Linked DNA regions of Homo sapiens. The protein of the gene in region 1 purifies or fractionates together with the protein of each later gene. This does not show direct contact. Each region holds a gene or a part of one and is shown in the gene's direction. Other genes may lie near its edges.

The links. The genes of interacting proteins can lie anywhere in the genome.
Region 2: the proteins of C1QTNF8 (region 1) and SATB2 purify together in Homo sapiens (affinity purification with mass spectrometry; one large-scale study listed by BioGRID and IntAct). This does not show direct contact.
Region 3: the proteins of C1QTNF8 (region 1) and TWNK purify together in Homo sapiens (affinity purification with mass spectrometry; one large-scale study listed by BioGRID and IntAct). This does not show direct contact.
Region 4: the proteins of C1QTNF8 (region 1) and OTUD4 purify together in Homo sapiens (affinity purification with mass spectrometry; one large-scale study listed by BioGRID and IntAct). This does not show direct contact.

The regions. Positions count from the first base shown.
Region 1 is NC_000016.10:1,092,339-1,098,282, reverse strand, and holds the start of C1QTNF8 (complement C1q tumor necrosis factor-related protein 8 precursor), read left to right. Parts: upstream 1-2,038; 5' UTR 2,039-2,127; exon of another isoform or gene 2,128-2,494; 5' UTR 2,495-2,668; intron 2,669-3,349; 5' UTR 3,350-3,360; coding exon 3,361-3,568; intron 3,569-4,231; coding exon 4,232-4,782; 3' UTR 4,783-4,786; exon of another isoform or gene 4,787-5,160; intron 5,161-5,944.
Region 2 is NC_000002.12:199,321,025-199,325,462, reverse strand, and holds part of SATB2 (DNA-binding protein SATB2), read left to right. Parts: intron 1-1,504; coding exon 1,505-1,660; intron 1,661-4,438. UniProt on the Homo sapiens protein: Binds to DNA, at nuclear matrix- or scaffold-associated regions. Thought to recognize the sugar-phosphate structure of double-stranded DNA.
Region 3 is NC_000010.11:100,992,700-100,995,818, forward strand, and holds the end of TWNK (twinkle mtDNA helicase), read left to right. Parts: intron 1-490; coding exon 491-811; 3' UTR 812-1,704; downstream 1,705-3,119.
Region 4 is NC_000004.12:145,138,175-145,142,612, reverse strand, and holds part of OTUD4 (OTU domain-containing protein 4), read left to right. Parts: intron 1-278; coding exon 279-417; intron 418-973; coding exon 974-1,234; intron 1,235-2,621; coding exon 2,622-2,662; intron 2,663-3,962; coding exon 3,963-4,438.

The DNA.
Region 1 (5,944 bases):
AGTGAGCCCAGGCGTCCAGGAGCCCCCAGTCTGTACAGCAGGGAGCTGAAGGCTGGGAGAGAGGGGTGGAGTCGGGGGTCTTGCTGAGGCCCCCTCCCCCAGTGCCTGGCACCTCCACCCGCACCTCACTGGCACAAGCGCCCCGCAGCACGGAGAGGGGGCGGCCCTCCCGGGGCCCGCCTGGGACGCTGCTGGGTGTCTGTGGGGGGTGGGCCCCAGGGCACCCGGCAGCAGCCGCTCCCCCGTCGCCACGGCAATGCCGCGGTCATGCCTGGCCAGGGCTATTTCTGTCCAGGAGACATGCTGTCCTGCCCCACTGAGTCACCCCCCGCGCTCCCTGCCCACCCCACTCAGGCCTGGCCTGCAGCTTCTGTGCCACATAGTTCAGGCATCGGCCCTGCCAGCCGCCTGCCCAGACGGACTCTCCCCAGGACGGGTCATCCCGGGCCACCCGAACCCAAGGGACCCAAAGGCACCCTTCCCGGGCCGTTCACCCACCCCTCAGCCTCCCTCCACCCTGCTCTGTGCGTGGGGAGGCTCTGGGACCTGCCCTCAAGGGGGACTGTCAGGAACATGCCTCTCTTTTTAGGGGGCAGTTCTGCTGGCGTCGGGGGGCACTGAGGGGCACAGGGTTCCCTGTGTCTAGGCCTCAGGGACGCTCTGGATACTTCTGAGCTCCATGGGTGCCCATTTCACGGGCATGGGAGGCTGAGGCTCAGACCCAGGGCACAGCAGAGTGTGGGCGTCCGCCCGTCTTTCTCTGCAAGCCCCAGGAGCACACTGTCCCACTGGGACACATCTGCAGAGCTGTGTTCTCGCCGCCCAGGGCACAGCCACGCTGAGCCGGCTCGGTCGGATGCAGGTGCCATAGTCACAGGCGCTCAGGTCTTCACACCCCATCTGTGTCACCACAGCCAACAGGGTGAAGATGGCTGTCCCCAGAGGGGGCCGCTGGGCCTAGTGGGTGCCGCTGCCAAGGGTGAGCTGTCACCGCCCAGGGCCACCTGGAGGGGGGAGCCTGGAACCGGCTACAGCTGGTGCGGTCCCCACCACAGCCCTCCCCAGCCCGTTGCCCGCAGCCTGGCACACGAAGCTCCCACAGGGGGGACCCCTTGGTCTCCCCTCACCTCCTGTCCTCCTTTCCTCCTCGGTCTTTAGCATGGGGGTGCTGAGGGCCAGGCCAAGCTGAGGGGCTGCGGGGAGAGCGGGACCCCAGGTCGCACACAAATCTGCCGAGGGGACTGAGCCAGCTCGGGGCCCCTCCCCGCCCACAGCCTGCTTTCAGGCAAGGCCGCCACAATTCTCCTGCCACGTCCAGCACCTCCCACAACAGGGGCCGGCTTGTGGAGGAAGGACCTGTGGGGAATGGCCGCGTGTCCGTGTCCAGAGGCCCAGGGTCGGAGCGGGACAAGGCCAAGGTGCTGTGTGGGCTTGGCCTGGGGCCCACAGAGAATGGAGCCCCCGCCCGCTGAGGCCTGGGAGGCCTAGAAGTCATTCCCGCGAGTCGTCCGGCCCAGTCCTTATCCGCTGAGAGGCGGGGCTGGTGCGGGGCCTCCCCAGGGGTGTCATGAGGGAATGAAGAGACCCCACGGAGCCTGGGGAGGCTGCGCTCCTGGGCTCCATCCAGCCTGGCTTCCCCGCCAGCAGCATGAGGGCTGTGCGTCACCCGGTGGCTTGGTGGCCATGGGGGCCCCGTGCAGCATGGAGGCCCTGGTCTGGGCCCCGAACACGGGCCTCGGCCTACAGCCCCCCCGCCGGGCCCGCCCAGCCACAGCTTCCATCTGCCTGCTTCTCCTCAGGGCGCCGCACCCCAGGCGGGCAGCAGGCTTGGTTTCCCGATGGAGGAGAGCTGCGTGCCCACGGCACCATCCCCCAACCCAGCCGGCCAAGACGCCGGGCCCCAGCCCCGCTCATGGGCACGGGGCTGGCAGGAGGACCCTGGGGCCGCGAGGCAGGCTTCGCAGTGGACACAGGGGCCCTGCCAGGATCCTGTCCAGGGCTCGGCGGAGCTGGCCTCTCGGCCTGTTGCTCTTGGACAGCCCAGAGGAAGCCACGGGCGCCCAGGCGGGCATGAAAGGGCTCTTTGACGGCTGGGTTGCTGGGACAGTAACACAGACGGCCGGCCAGGCAGGGAGCATCCCTGAGACGGTAACAGGAAGCACAGGGCCTGGGGCTGGTTGTGGGAGTCTTCACAGCCGCCCTGGGCAGGTCGGGCTCCCCCTGAACCCCAGCGGAGCATGATCCAGCCCTGATTGTCTGCCAGGCAGGGCCAGGGGCTGGGACGGCCGGGAACTCCGTGGGGGCTCCTGCAGGCCTCCGTGCATGCACACACCCACTCCTGCCAGGCTCCCTCTGCCGGAGGAGTCCAGGGGGGCTCTTGTGGTGTCCAGTGGGGCCAGGGGGTGAGTCAGGGTCTGCTGAGCTCATGGGGAGGCAGGCAGAGGGTGTCTCAACTGCCAGAGACATTCCACCCACCTGGAATGACCCACTGCAGGAGGAAGGACCTTGCCCTGTGCTACAATCCCAGAGGGCTTCCTGAAGGAGGCAGCCTAGATCTTTGTCCAGCAGAGCCCATCTTCAGGGAATATTGAGGATCCCGACCCGTGCACCTGCCCTAGCGGAAGACACTCCTGGCCAAGCCTCCAGATGTGGCTGTGAGGGGAGTGGGGTAGGCAAGGCCCACCTGGCAGGGGGGCCAGGCTTGTTGGGGCAGCTGCTGTTGGGAGGGGGCCTACCTTGCTCAGGGGGACCCAGGTTGGCTCTGGCTTCCCCTCGGCACCAAGGTGGGACCATCCTTCCCTAGTCTGGGGGAGGCAGAGGAGTGGCCTCCCGAGGCCCCTGCAGGCCCTGCCCTGGGGGCTCCGGACGAGAGGCTCTCTGGGCCTGGCTGAGACGGTGCCTCTGTGCACTGTGCAGGGCCCCCCACCCCAGGCCAGCCTTGGGGGGCCTTTCCCTGGAGCAGACCAGCCACCACGCCCCAGGGCTCTGCCCAGCCACAGTGGGTGGGGCCTTGGGCGGCTACCCGCTCCTGAGTTTAGAGGGCTGTCTCAGAGACCTCTGTGTCCCACAACGGCTTCCCCACCATCTGCCGGGTGTGGGGGCCCCAGCTTTGGGGACCAGGACTCCCCGACTCCAGGTGTGCAGGGTGCCTGGTGCGGCCCAGAGTGTAGCAGCCCCTGAGCCTCGGCCTTGGCCTCACCCACTGGGCCAGGACCGTCCGTGCCCAGGCAGAAGCTCCCGCCTCCACTGGCTGTATTCCCAACGGGGGCAGGGCCGGGCTGCCGTAGGGTCTGGGGGCTCCAGCTGGGGCACCTCCTTCTCAGTCCCTCCCCTCTTTCCTCTCCCCCAGCCCTGGCCAAGATGGCAGCCCCCGCCCTGCTGCTCCTAGCACTGCTGCTGCCCGTGGGGGCCTGGCCCGGGCTGCCCAGGAGGCCCTGTGTGCACTGCTGCCGCCCGGCCTGGCCCCCTGGACCCTATGCCCGGGTGAGTGACAGGGACCTGTGGAGGGGGGACCTGTGGAGGGGGCTGCCTCGAGTACGGCCCACTATAGACATCGAAATCCTCAAAGGTGAGGCCCGTGGGTGCTGCCTGCATGCTCCCCCACCAGGACCCAACAGCCCACAGGGAGTGGGGAGCACCTGGGGCTTGGGAGGAGGGGCGGGAGGGGCACGCTGAGCACCAGTGTCTGCCCTGGCAGCGCTCCCTGCACAGGGACCCCTGGGCTCCCCCCGCAAGCAGGAAGAAGCCTGGCTTGGGGAGGGACCCATGAACCAAAGTGGGGTGCTGAGGATCCTGGGGAAGGGGGCCAGGGTTCCTGAGATCCCCAAAGTAGCAGCCCCTTGGGAAGGGAGCCTGGGCAGCCCGCTTGCTCTGAGACCCCTTGACACGGCTGCGCTGTCCCGAAGGCTGTACTAAGGTTAGGCTTGGGTAGGACCTTCCCAGCCTTCTCATTCTTTAACACCCAACGCAGACCGTAGCTGGCCCTGACCACCCATGTCCCCACCCTCTCGGTGGGGACGGCCTTGCCACAGGCCTTGGTCTAGCCACACCTTTGGAGAACGGCTTCTCCCCATCTTACAGACGTGGACGCGGAGACTGGGAGAGGGGCCGTCACTTGCAAAGAGTGTGTCCTTACAGTGACCCTTGAGCCCCAGCCCCTGGCCTGGGTGCTGGAATGGGGGAGGCCTGCCCAGCCCGGCCCCGACCCGTGGCTTTCGTTTGTCCCCTGCAGGTGAGAAGGGTGAGGCCGGCGTCCGAGGTCGGGCCGGCAGGAGCGGGAAAGAGGGGCCGCCAGGCGCCCGGGGCCTGCAGGGCCGCAGAGGCCAGAAGGGGCAGGTGGGGCCGCCGGGCGCCGCGTGCCGACGTGCCTACGCCGCCTTCTCCGTGGGCCGGCGCGAGGGCCTGCACAGCTCCGACCACTTCCAGGCGGTGCCCTTCGACACGGAGCTGGTGAACCTGGACGGCGCCTTCGACCTGGCCGCGGGCCGCTTCCTCTGCACGGTGCCCGGCGTCTACTTCCTCAGCCTCAACGTGCACACCTGGAACTACAAGGAGACCTACCTGCACATCATGCTGAACCGGCGGCCCGCGGCCGTGCTCTACGCGCAGCCCAGCGAGCGCAGCGTCATGCAGGCCCAGAGCCTGATGCTGCTGCTGGCGGCGGGCGACGCCGTCTGGGTGCGCATGTTCCAGCGCGACCGGGACAACGCCATCTACGGCGAGCACGGAGACCTCTACATCACCTTCAGCGGCCACCTGGTCAAGCCGGCCGCCGAGCTGTAGCCGGGTGAGGGGCCCCGCGGCTGAGCACCGGGCGCGCGCGCGCGTGTGTGTGTGTGTCTGTGTGTGTGTGTGTGGGGGTGGGTGTGGGTGTGTGTGTGTGGGTGGGTGTGGGTGTGGTGGGGTGGGCGGGCAGCGGAGCTTCAGCGCCGACTGTGTGCAGTGATTTGTTGAGCGCTGACTGTGTGCAGGGATTGGTTGAGCGCCGACTGTGTGCAGTGATTTGTTGAGCGCCGACTGTGTGCAGGGATTGGTTGAGCGCCGACTGTGTGCTGTGATTGGTTGAGCGCCGACTGTGTGCTGTGATTGGTTGAGCGCCGACTGTGTGCAGGGATTGATTGAGCGCCGACTGTGTGCTGTGATTTGTTGAGCACCGACTGTGTGCAGGGATTGGTTGAGCGCCGACTGTGTGCTGTGATTGGTTGAGCGCCGACTGTGTGCAGTGATTGGTTGAGCGCCGACTGTGTGCAGGGATTGGTTGAGCGCCGACTGTGTGCAGGGATTGATTGAGCGCCGACTGTGTGCAGGGATTGGTTGAGCGCCGACTGTGTGCTGTGATTGGTTGAGCGCCGACTGTGTGCAGTGATTTGTTGAGCGCCGACTGTGTGCAGGGATTGGTTGAGCGCCGACTGTGTGCAGGGATTGATTGAGCGCCGACTGTGTGCTGTGATTGGTTGAGCGCCGACTGTGTGCAGGGATTGGTTGAGTGCCGACTGTGTGCTGTGATTGGTTGAGCGCCGACTGTGTGCTGTGATTGGTTGAGCGCCGACTGTGTGCTGTGATTGGTTGAGCGCCGACTGTGTGCAGGGATTGGTTGAGCGCCGACTGTGTGCTGTGATTGGTTGAGCGCCGACTGTGTGCTGTGATTGGTTGAGCGCCGACTGTGTGCAGTGATTTGTTGAGCGCCGACTGTGTGCAGGGATTGGTTGAGCGCCGACTGTGTGCAGGGATTGATTGAGCGCCGACTGTGTGCTGTGATTGGTTGAGCGCCGACTGTGTGCAGGGATTGGTTGAGTGCCGACTGTGTGCTGTGATTGGTTGAGCGACGACTGTGTGCTGTGATTGGTTGAGTGCCGACTGTGTGCAGTGATTGATTGAGCGCCGACTGTGTGCAGGGATTGGTTGTGCCCCGACTGTGTGCAGGGATTGATTGAGCGCCGACTGT
Region 2 (4,438 bases), on another chromosome or scaffold:
TGGCATAAATTGGAGATTTTGGAGGCAGTGTGTAGTGCAGTGTCCTGAGCCCATGTTTTTGAGCCTGAAAGACTTGCGTTCAGATCATGGTTCCTTCACTGGCTGCTGGGTGTCCTAGGTTAAGATCCTCTTTTATTTCAGTTTCTTCATCTGTAAGATGAAAATAATAATATCTAACTCATTGGAATCTTAAAAGAATTAAATGTGAAAACAAATGTTAAAATGCTTTCTGGAGTACCTGGCCCATAAAAAGCACGCCATAAATTATAGTAATTATTGCTTTGCGGTAATTAGAAAATAGTATGAGAGAAGGAGGTAGAAGAAAAATGGCAGAAGTTACTGAGCACTGTTAGGAAGCAAAGCCTTTATGGAAACGTAGGGCCTTAAGTTCTGCCGCTAGACACCATTTGTCACAGAGTCCACACTGCCTGTTACATCTTTCTCTGGACCTGCATACTGCTGGATCCAGTAGAGAACAGCTCAGGGCATCCGCACAGGGAAACTTGTGATTTGGAGATAACTCTGTTGGTTTGAGATTCTAGGGTGAATGGGGACAAAGAGAAAAAACCCAGGTTAGGCCAATTCGGCTGGTAGTGCACAAGGATCAAGGATGTCTTTTCCTGAAATCTTGCTGCCAGAGGTTCTAAGAAAATGTCTCAGCCCTCTCTTATTAGACACCAGCAATGCATTCTAGGGCTCACACCAAGTAAATGTTATGACCGTCTTTTGGATTAAGTAGATTCAGACATTTTAGGGTTATCCTAACCCCAAGAAGTACAGACTTCTATATTGTCCTTCATTTGTCTCTGAAGCTGATGGGAAATCATTCAATTAAAACGAGCACTGCAGAATACATAAAACCGCAATATGAGTTTAAGAAAATGAAAACGGCACATCAAAGGCATTGTGAAGCCTAGTTTTATGAAATGAAATTTTGTTTCATTTCCACTGATTTCCTAGGTGAAATTAGGTGACTGTCTGGGTAGCATAATGATGATAATGATGGGAAACCATACATACTCGAATGACATATGTAAAGCTTTAATAAAGAATAAGAGAGACTTGGGAGTGCATTAAATTGAGTAATAATTTATTATTTAGAGACCTCTACCCATTTACTTATTTTTTTTCTGGAAGAATTGGCTCTTATTCCAAGGTGTGCCATTTTTAGAAAGAAAAGGTTAACTGTGTGTGTGTTCTGCATGTTTGTTTTGTAGTTAGATGGTTGCTTATAGTTTGGTGTCTAGGAGAGCCATCCTACCTGTGAACCTTCGTCTGGGATGCTGTGAGAGAACAGGGTTGACAGGATTCTGCATGTCCTATAGGAATGCACTGCAATTATTTCCAATCACAATTAACCTGATTAGAATAATGGACAGGAAGTGTCCCTCTGTAGCTAATGCAGTTTGGCATCAGCTGACTGAAATCCTTTGATAATTTCTGCACAGATGGCTGGGCTGAATGCAGCACTTTTTAAATTATTATTTTCATGGTCTCTTGGTAGGCCAAAACCTCGACACCGACAACAGACCTCCCTATTAAGGTGGACGGCGCCAACATCAACATCACAGCTGCCATTTATGACGAGATCCAACAGGAGATGAAAAGGGCCAAGGTGTCTCAAGCCCTGTTTGCCAAAGTGGCTGCAAATAAAAGTCAGGTGAGTGGTTTTTAAAAAAGCAAAATCGAGGGCTGGAATTAGATCCTTCTCCTTCCTCCACCAATAAAAATACATCTGTTCCTATAATAATAATAACAGTAATAACCCCCAAGAAACCTGTCATGTTCTGCCTTTTACTCTAGTTTGCTTTTATTCCCATTGGAGTTCAAAATAGAGATGAAGCCAAAACTTGACCTTTTTTCTTTTAAAGATTAAAAAAAATTAGCCTCGAATGATTTCTCTCCTTATTCTAAACACTGCAATGTACCCTTTTGTTTCTCTCCCTTTATATATGTGTGTGTGTGTGTGTGTGTGTGTGTGTGTGTATGAACAAAACTTAGAATGTATATAACAGCACCTTTCTGAGACCAAGTTTTAGCCAAGTCTCATCACCTTTCCTGTTCCCACAAGGGGAATGTCCAACTCTGTTATAATAACCACTTTTCCCCAGCCCCAGAGACACCTTTTGATGTCAGGTGTTTCTTTTATGTACAGAATACAGTTGATTTTTTCAGGAGAAAACACACGTGGGGGGAGTGCAGAGTAAGTGCTAAAATCTTTTAACAGAAAAACACAGAAGCTTATCCAGTAAAATTTTTCAGAGTTCTGGGATTGTGGAGAATGTAATGCTCTGGGGAAAAGAGCAGACAGATGCTTAGGTTTTTTATTTCTGAAAGCAGCAACAGTTGATGGGATCTACTATCTGCTTCAATTCTTCATTTAAAGGGACAACTTCTGCCCAAACCTAGAATCCTAGGTTTGAGGTGCATGCTCACTTATGTATACCTAGGGCGAACACCTAATGCAGAGTGGAGGAAATAAAAGTTAGTTAAAGCATAATTTTGAGAGTCCTTTGATTCTGAGCTTGATTTCCTCTGTGTCCTTATATGACAAATGTTTTCATCCCTACATATGTAAATAATCAAATGGTTGATCATCTCCCTAACAAATCTTCTGTTGTGTGCTATAAAGAAAGGAAGTGACTGAGTATTGTATTTCTATTAAGCAAGAAGGTTTTCAATAAAAATTAAATTTTTAAAACTGAAAAACTTCAAACTGTAGTTAAATGTTATATTTAGATTAATTATAGAGTACAGGGTTAGCCTTCTTTACCTGCAGTTTTAACCTGATATAGGTTATTTTTAGATGTTGATAAAAGGAGGGGAGTAGAATATCAAGGAACTTGGAAAGGGATTGAAATGTTTGTTTCCCTTTTCAATTTCAGTGTAGTAAGTTTTCCAGATTACTCTGACTTTCTCTCTTCAATGAAATCAGTGAAATACAGTTTGCTAAGACATAATGTCCAACCATAGTATGAAATACATGAAAAGAAAATACCATAGAGCCTTCTTAAACTGTTAAATGCATAAAATCCCATGTACCACATGGCAAAATATAATGAGAGTTGGAGCTGTTAAACGAATAAAGCTGTTAAATGCATAATGCCACTTGGCAAAACTACTGTGCATTTAATGGTTTTCCACTGTGTAATAAAGGACATATGTGGTAAATGTGCAGTGAGTATAAAAGCTGCACAATTGATTTTGCAAACCTGCCCCTTAGTTGTGACTTGATGTAAATATCAAAGTTTCACACAGTCCTTCTTTTATAAGCAGCTTTCAAGAAAAACTGAAGACCACAGTCTGAGAACTTGATTCCAAAAGCCTGTAATCTTCCTGTTGATTTAGCAGTATGGCTTTTGGAAATAGTGATGCCTCCAGCCTCCTAAAATAATTCAGGTAGCTGATTGAAAGCTGCTTTTGCCAACTGGCAGAAGCTTAGCTCTCCAAATTTTTGATGTCTCCTGAAGAAATCAGTAGCCCTGATTTCGTAGAATTTGGAGAAGAACATAGTTCTGGGAATTAATATGCTGAAGGTAAGATTGAGCTTAAGTGAGGATAAGATGCTTTGAGGTTGTTCCTTTTTCACTGGGACAATGATCTCATTTTCATCTATGAGTGGGGAACCTTATTGTAAATAGCTGACTAGATAGGCAATTCAGGCACTATGTTTATTATGTTTTTTTTTTAAAAATGATACTGCCAAACAAAATGAATTTAATTGGCAGTTTCAAAGGCAATTTAACAAAAGATATTCACTCCATTTTATAAGTATCAGTATTCATTTGATAAAAAGTACATTTAGTGAAATCAATTGCATGATTTGGTACATGGCATATATATTTGGTGGCTATCCATAAGGTGTATCTATGTGTGTGTACCTGTGTGTACATGTGTGTGTATGTGTGTATATATATACACATATATGTATATATGTATATGTGTGTATATACATGTATGTGTATATACACATATATACATGTATGTGTATACATATATAAATCTATAAGGTGTATATATGAGACTGAGATATATATATATCCATAAGGTGTATCTGTGTGTGTATATAGACATATATATGTCTATGTATAGACATACATATATATCTATACATAGACATATGTACATACATATATGTCTATACATAGACGTGTATATATATGTCTATACATATGCATACACATACATACACCTTATGGATATATATATCTTAGTCATATATATACACCTTATAGACTTATATATCTCTCTTAGTCATGACTAATCATAGGACTTAACCTTTTCAAGCTGCAGAGGGGAGTGGCCACACCCACTCCATTGTATTGTGAGGACGGAGAGGAACAAAGATTTTTCTCTTCCCTTGCATTTTCTTCCCTCCTTTTATTTTTCTTTGGAGGGATCTTAAGTTCTTGCAGTGACTGAAGAGCCAAATGCAAGG
Region 3 (3,119 bases), on another chromosome or scaffold:
AGATTTGAGTGGCCCCAGCATCGTGGTCAGTAGTTCAAAGAGCTTTGGTCATGGGGGGAAGTACTTTTCCCTCTCCCATTCTTTCTCTTTTTTTTTTTCTTTTTTGAGACGGAGTCTCGCTCTGTTGCCCAGGCTGGAGTGCAGTGGCACAATCTTGGCTCACTGCAACCTCCGCCTCCCGGATTCAAGCGATTCTCCTGCCTCAGCCTCCCAAGAAGCTGGGACTATAGGTGCATGCCACCATGCCCAGCTAATTTTTTGTATTTTTAGTAGAGATGGGGTTTCACCGTGTTAGCCAGGATGGTCTTGATTTCCTGACATCGTGATCCACTCGACTCGGCCTCCCAAAGTTCTGGGATTACAGGCGTGAGCCATTGTACCCAGCCCCTCTCCCCATTCTTATCACTCCTCCCTGCCCTGTCAGCCCCCCTTTCTGCTTTGCTCATGTCCTCTTACTCCTGCTTTCCTCCTTCTGCCCCCTGTTCCCCAGGCAAGCCAGGAAGCAGACAATGTTCTGATCCTGCAGGACAGGAAGCTGGTAACCGGGCCAGGGAAACGGTATCTGCAGGTGTCCAAGAACCGCTTTGATGGAGATGTAGGTGTCTTCCCGCTTGAGTTCAACAAGAACTCCCTCACCTTCTCCATTCCACCAAAGAACAAGGCCCGGCTCAAGAAGATCAAGGATGACACTGGACCAGTGGCCAAAAAGCCCTCTTCTGGCAAAAAGGGGGCTACGACACAGAACTCTGAGATTTGCTCAGGCCAGGCCCCCACTCCCGACCAGCCAGACACCTCCAAGCGTTCAAAGTGAAGGCCGTGCAGAGCTGGTCACTGAAATGAGCCTGATAGGATAGGCTGGAGCATAAAACTCTGCAAGGGCTCCTCTATCCTGTGGTCCTGAGCTGTGTGCCCTTCTCAGTCTGAGGGGCCTAACCTAGAGCAGGTTTCCATAGTGAGAAAATTCAATGTAGCAGACTACTGAGAAACTACTGTGTTGCTCAGGCTTTGTTTGAGGTCCTGTATATACAGCACTGAAAAGAGAGATAAAGTCCCTGCCTGCATGCATTCTGGCGGAAGAGACAAGCAAGCAATGAACAAATTAGCAGAAAACCTAGTTTTAGTGAAAAATGCTGTAAAGAAAATAGAAATGCGATAGAGTGCTGGCAGGCTAGTGTAGATAAGTGGTCTGAAAAGGTGTCTCTGAGCCGAGGGCATGTGAGCTGGGGCCTAAACAACTAGAAGGAGAGAGCCACGTGAACATCCGGCGAAGGGGACCCAGGCAGAGAGAAAAGGAAATCCAAGCCCTGAGGTAGGAATGAGCAGGTCAGATTCAAGGCAGTGAGGTCAGGCCGCATGAACCTGGAGGGGAATCGGGGACTTCATGCGAAACTCCAGCCTAGGCTTTCAAAGTCAAAGGGTGATACAGTGGGTACCAAGCTCCTCTGCTCCCCACTTTGTAGAGCCTAGCATGAGGTGGCATGTACTAGAATTGGATCCTAGGTGCTTAGCCCTGCAATATCAGGGCCTCACTGGTGGGAGCTGCCTCGGGCTGGGTTGCTTGGTCATAGAGCCATAGAAGGAAGCTGTCAGCCCGGAGTGCCTGCCACCTAGACACTGATGCCATTGTGTGCTGCCTCAAGACTGCTGGAGTCAGGACATTTTATAGAGCCTTTTCCAGTTTTACTAAAAAATTTTTCCATTGCCTTTGTTTCTGTGCTTTTTCTTATTCATCCACCAGGTGTCTCCCCAGTCCGTAGCTGAATTTCCCTTTCGGGATTGGGAATGGACGGGTCCCCTCCCACTGCTTGCAGCCTTTGAGCGGTGGGCTTCCAAGGAAGCAGGGACATTAAAGGGCCTTCACACCCCACCTTCCATTTACATCTCTTCTTGGCCTAGGGAAGACAAGATGATCTGTCCTCATACCTAACTTCCCTGAGGATCTCGAGTGATTCCTGGCACAGGTACTCATCACTGGGCCACATGAGCCCAGTGCCCTGCCTGACTGGCCATTCCTCTGTGATGTGAGCCACTCACCTCTCAAGTGGACTTAGACTCAACATATTCTGTCCACCCCCATCCATCTCCCTCCTGTACCCTCTCCGTGTTTCTCATATGCTAATGCGTGCCAGAACTCCTGGGGACTTGTGAAAAATGCAGAAACTAGGCCCCATTCTCCCCCCATCCTCCACCACGTACATTTCTCATTCTGGATTTGAGGACGGGTACAGTAATCCTCATTTTTAACAAGCCGTGGAGGAGACTGTAAAATAGGTGACCCAGAGGGACTGTCAGAAGTATTCCTAAATGATGACACCTTCTCATCTCTCGTCCTCTGATATCCCAAAGTCCCAGTTTCCCTTTGGATTTGCCTGAAAGAGTCGTGAGAATGCAATATGTTCTGAGGGGGCTGGGGAGAATCCTTTTGTAAGGGTTGGGGGAAGGTTTCCTGCTCCGTTTGGAAGCAGGGCTGCCTTGTCAGGCTCTTCCTTTCAACCTATGAAGGGGCTTCTGGGGCCGATGGAGGGGTCTGTGGTCTCTGGAGTGTGAGAACTCTGGTCACAAATGTCTCCTGAAACATCCGGAGCAAGGCTGCTGGAAAGCTGCTCTCTGTGAGGAAGAACCTGGGGGGGTGGGGAGAGCTCCTCCAGGGCCTCCCTTCTTGGGGGTCTCTCCCAGACTGGCTGGAGCCAGGCCTCCCTAATCCCGCAGTAATCATTCCCAGCCGTTGGCTGGTCTAGGCCTCATCCAGAGTCTGTAACGCTGAACGGCAGCCATGCCTTCCAGAGGCACAATACCATATCAGTCATACCTGTAAGGATGTGGGTTCCACATTCCTGTCTCCCTAGAATGCCTGGTGGGTTCTCAGGAGATCTTTTAGGGGTTTCCAGTAGGGGACCTTTGTGAGGTCTCTGTGAACTGGGGATAGAGGGATAGATACAGACTTGGCTGTTTGTCTTGCCCCACCCTTCTAGCAGACACCCCCACACAGCACAAACCAGAATGATGAGGGGGAGGGGAAGCTAATACTCCCCCCAGCCCTACCCGCTGCACAAACACGTTCTATTCCATACCTGCCTTAAATACCCCATATCATGATTCCACCCAGTCTGTTCAGATCC
Region 4 (4,438 bases), on another chromosome or scaffold:
GAGTTTTGAGACTAGCCTGGGCAACAGGGTGAAACCCTGTCTGTATTAAAAAATACAGTCCTTGTTGGTAGGCAACCCTTGGTTAGGATCAAATTTGTTTGCATATTATCTTTAGCTACTGTGTGTTTTTCTTACATTTCTAAGACTATAAGGGCTATTTGTACTTCATTTGTATAAAAGGCAGGCAACTCAATATGTATCTGGTGGTTAGAAATAGTGTTAAAGCAAAATGACCTCTTGTCTTTTTCTGTCTTCCCCCACTCACCCCTTTCTTGAAGAAGCCAGCAGAACATGTGTCTTTGTCAAATCCAGCTCCCCTTCTAGTTTCTCCAGAGGTACATCTAACTCCTGCGGTGCCTTCTTTACCAGCCACTGTGCCAGCCTGGCCAAGTGAACCTACAACTTTTGGACCAACAGGTTAGAGAAGGGTTTAGAAAATCTAGCCAGCCAAAATACCTTTCTAGTCAGAGACTTCAAATTCTTGAGTGGAAGTTTGACCTCTGAGCAGGATTAGGTGTGTGGAGCCTCACAGAGCTTTCTGTGATACTCTGCTTTGCTCTGCTTCCAATGTGGAAAGACCATGTACATTTGGTGTTGTATTCATCTGACATATGCCCTCATAGTCTCAGGAGCATGATGTTTGAGCTGGTTGCTTTGGTTGCTCAGCACTAATTAGCACCACGGTTTGATGCTTCCTTCATGGGCCAGCTCTTTATGGCCCCGTAATGAACCCCTTGACCAGCCCCATGTCCTACACGTGCCTGCAAGAGCTACTATTAGAAGACATTGACTCAGAGCTTGTATCCTGGACGTATTTCCTTCTTGGTGTCCAGGAGGGCTCTTGGTTGATACTAAAAGGTACTACTTTAGATTGGCTTTATCAGTTATACAGCATTCTTTATAGGTTAATGTAAGCATATTTGTAGAGATTTTCATCTTTTGTCATTTTGATTCCTTTTCTTCTCTTTTGTAGGTGTCCCTGCTCCAATTCCCGTTTTGTCAGTGACACAGACTTTGACCACTGGACCTGATTCAGCTGTATCCCAAGCTCATTTAACACCCTCTCCAGTTCCTGTGTCAATACAGGCAGTTAACCAGCCCTTGATGCCTTTGCCTCAGACATTGAGCCTTTATCAAGACCCACTCTATCCTGGGTTTCCTTGTAATGAAAAGGGAGATCGAGCCATTGTACCACCTTATTCACTGTGTCAGACTGGGGAGGACCTACCTAAAGGTGAGCTCCTTCTCCAAGTTCAAATCGACTTTATCAAGTCCAAATAAGCTTAGTTAAGAAATGAAGAGATGTAAGTAGAGGTCAGAGGTCTGGTTTCTTAGTAAGCTCAAGGATGGGAAGGACAGCAAAGTTTTAGCTATTAGTCAGTCATTCTTGTTTCAGCTTGATTTATTAGAAAATGTATTATAATTTTTTTTTTTTTTTTTTTTTGAGACGGAGTCTCGCTCTGTCACCCGGGCTGGAGTGCAGTGGTGTGATCTCGGCTCACTGCAACCTCCACCTCCCAGATTCAAACAATTCTCCCACTTCAGCATCCTGAGTAGCTGGGATGACTACAGGCACATGCCACCAGGCCTGGCTAATTTTTTGTATTTTTTAGTAGAGACGGGGTTTCACCGTGTTAGCCAGGATGGTCTCGATCTCCCGACCTCGTAATCTGCGTGCCTTGGCCTCCCGAAGTGCTGGGTTTACAGGTGTGAGCCACCGCGCCTGGCCCAGAAAATTTTTTTTTGTTTCTAGCATACTTGTTAATGCTAGTATGCTTAGTAATGATACCTCCTTCTGTGTTTTTACATAAATGGACTTGAAACCATTCTGAATTACAATAATAATTTCACTAATTAGATACCTAAACACTGTGGAGCTTTATCAACACTGGTCTGCATTTCAGACATGCATCCGTGAAAAAGTTACAGAGAAAAGCAAATATAGTATGTAGTGGCTGTTAAAGTACTATATTTAGTATGTCTTATTTTTGTTTAAAAAATTCTTTCAAAGTTTGCTTTCCCTCTTTATTTTTAAGGAATTTACACCTCCCTCCTTTTTAGTTTCCAAAATTTTATATCTGTAAATTTGAGTAATGCACTGACTACTATATGCTGTTTACCTGGATTTATGTGGATGTTTTTGTTTTATTAGTTAGTAGTTTGATGTTTGTGTCTATGAGTAACTGGCTCATGGCATATGAATACTTGGAAGAATATTATCCTGCAAATGATGCTACTAATAAGTTAGGTTTTATGTTGATTTTACCATTCTTCTCAACATTTTTATTTCCTAATTTTTAAACCCCCAGAAAAGTTGAGAAAGAAAGCCACCTGAATGTCCTTTACCCAGATTCAGTTTTAATGAGATAAAAATTTCAATCTAAGCCATTTTGGGATTTATATGCTAACAGACAAAGCCTATTGAATCTGGAATTAACCTTTGGGAACAACCTGTTTTTGGGTTGTGTTATATTACAGTTTTTATCTATGTTTTGTATCACAGGCTAGAGAAGACAATTATAGTAGGTAAAATTGTCTTTAGAACTATATATTTAATGAGGATGATTTAAAAAAATCTCTGCAGATATATAATTTTAACAAGTGATTACTTTTATTTTTAGATAAGAATATTCTTCGATTCTTCTTCAATCTTGGTGTGAAGGTATTTACATTTTATCATCTTAAAAGTTATTTTATTCATTAATAGTGTTTTAAATTATTACTAGTGTTAACTCTTACCCTGTCAGTCAGTAACCTAAAGTTTACTAAATCTCATCATTTTAAAAACCAGCATTTTCAGTACTATATCGTTTGTTTTTGGTGCTAGTAGAGGCTCCAGTTTTACTTACTTTTTTGTCTTAACTGGTGATGGCTTAACCTGTGAGTATATTTAAGACATAGCTGCATCTTTGGGCAGCCTAGTGGAAATGCCCTTGCTGGGGAATAATTAGATGTAAATCTGGGCTTGAAGTTCTGCTCCATCACTCTTTAGCTGAATTTCCCTGGGCAAGCCATGTAGTGTATCTGGGCCTAGCTTTTTTCATTTATAGAATGGGGGTAATATTCTTTACTTGCCTCCATTATTGAAAAGATCAAAGGAAATAACGTGTACATCCTCCTATGTAAGATAGTGTGGTTGTTGACTAGAAGAGCAGAGGTATCCTTTGGGAAGTGGTCAACCTAGAAATAGCTTTTCTTAGGTTGGAGAACTCTGTCCTTGTTAAATGTTAGGTTTTCTCCTGACCTAGATTAGTTTTTGTGGGTTCTAGACAGTTAAACTATGAAACGAAGTGCCCTACCTTTAGCCTGCTGACCACTTTCATAAAAAGAAACTTGATTATTTTACTATCTGCTGCATTGCTTAATTTTAATGTATTTAATGTTGATTTTAATTGGTTAGCCAATTAGCTGGTTATACTTTCTTCATATTTTGGTTTTTAGCTGAACTCTTGCAGAGGAAGGATTTGGAATATTTCATTTTCAACATTATCCCTCCCTGATTAGAGGTCTAACTTAATCCTTACATTCGGAGTACTCTTGGGGGCTCCTAGAATTGCAGAGTCCTGACATTGGAGATCATCTACTCTTATACTGACATTCCCAGTAAAACAAATTCAGATGTTAACTGGCCTGCATGGGGTCACACAGTGAGTTAGTGGTAGAGCCCGAATGTGAATGCAGGTCTGGCTAAACAGTCAGTGATGGAGATACTATCTCCTATCAACCTATGAGGACTTCAGATTGGTTTTAGGACAGGAGCAAGCAATGGAGTCTTAAAGCAGTGAATTTTGTAATTCATTTTCACGTTGGTTATCACAGTGATTTAGTATTTGGACTATAGATTATATGGTCTTTGTAGGCATGAGAAACTTATTTTGACCCTAGTACTTGTAGATTGATATCCACCCAAACCTCTCTTTTTTCTCCTCTTTTGTTTATTTAACTGTTTTTTGTCTCTTCAGGCATACAGTTGTCCTATGTGGGCCCCACATTCTTACCTGTACCCTCTGCACCAGGCCTACCTGGCAGCCTGCAGGATGTACCCAAAGGTCCCTGTCCCTGTTTATCCTCATAATCCCTGGTTCCAAGAGGCTCCTGCTGCTCAGAATGAAAGTGATTGTACCTGTACTGATGCCCACTTTCCTATGCAGACTGAGGCCAGTGTTAATGGTCAAATGCCACAGCCAGAGATTGGACCGCCGACATTTTCTTCACCTCTGGTTATCCCTCCATCTCAGGTGTCTGAAAGTCATGGACAATTGTCTTACCAGGCTGATCTTGAATCTGAGACCCCTGGGCAGCTTCTGCATGCTGATTATGAAGAGTCACTAAGTGGCAAGAATATGTTCCCCCAGCCATCTTTTGGACCCAATCCATTCTTAGGCCCAGTTCCTATTGCACCTCCTTTCTTTCCTCATGTTTGGTATGGGTACCCTTT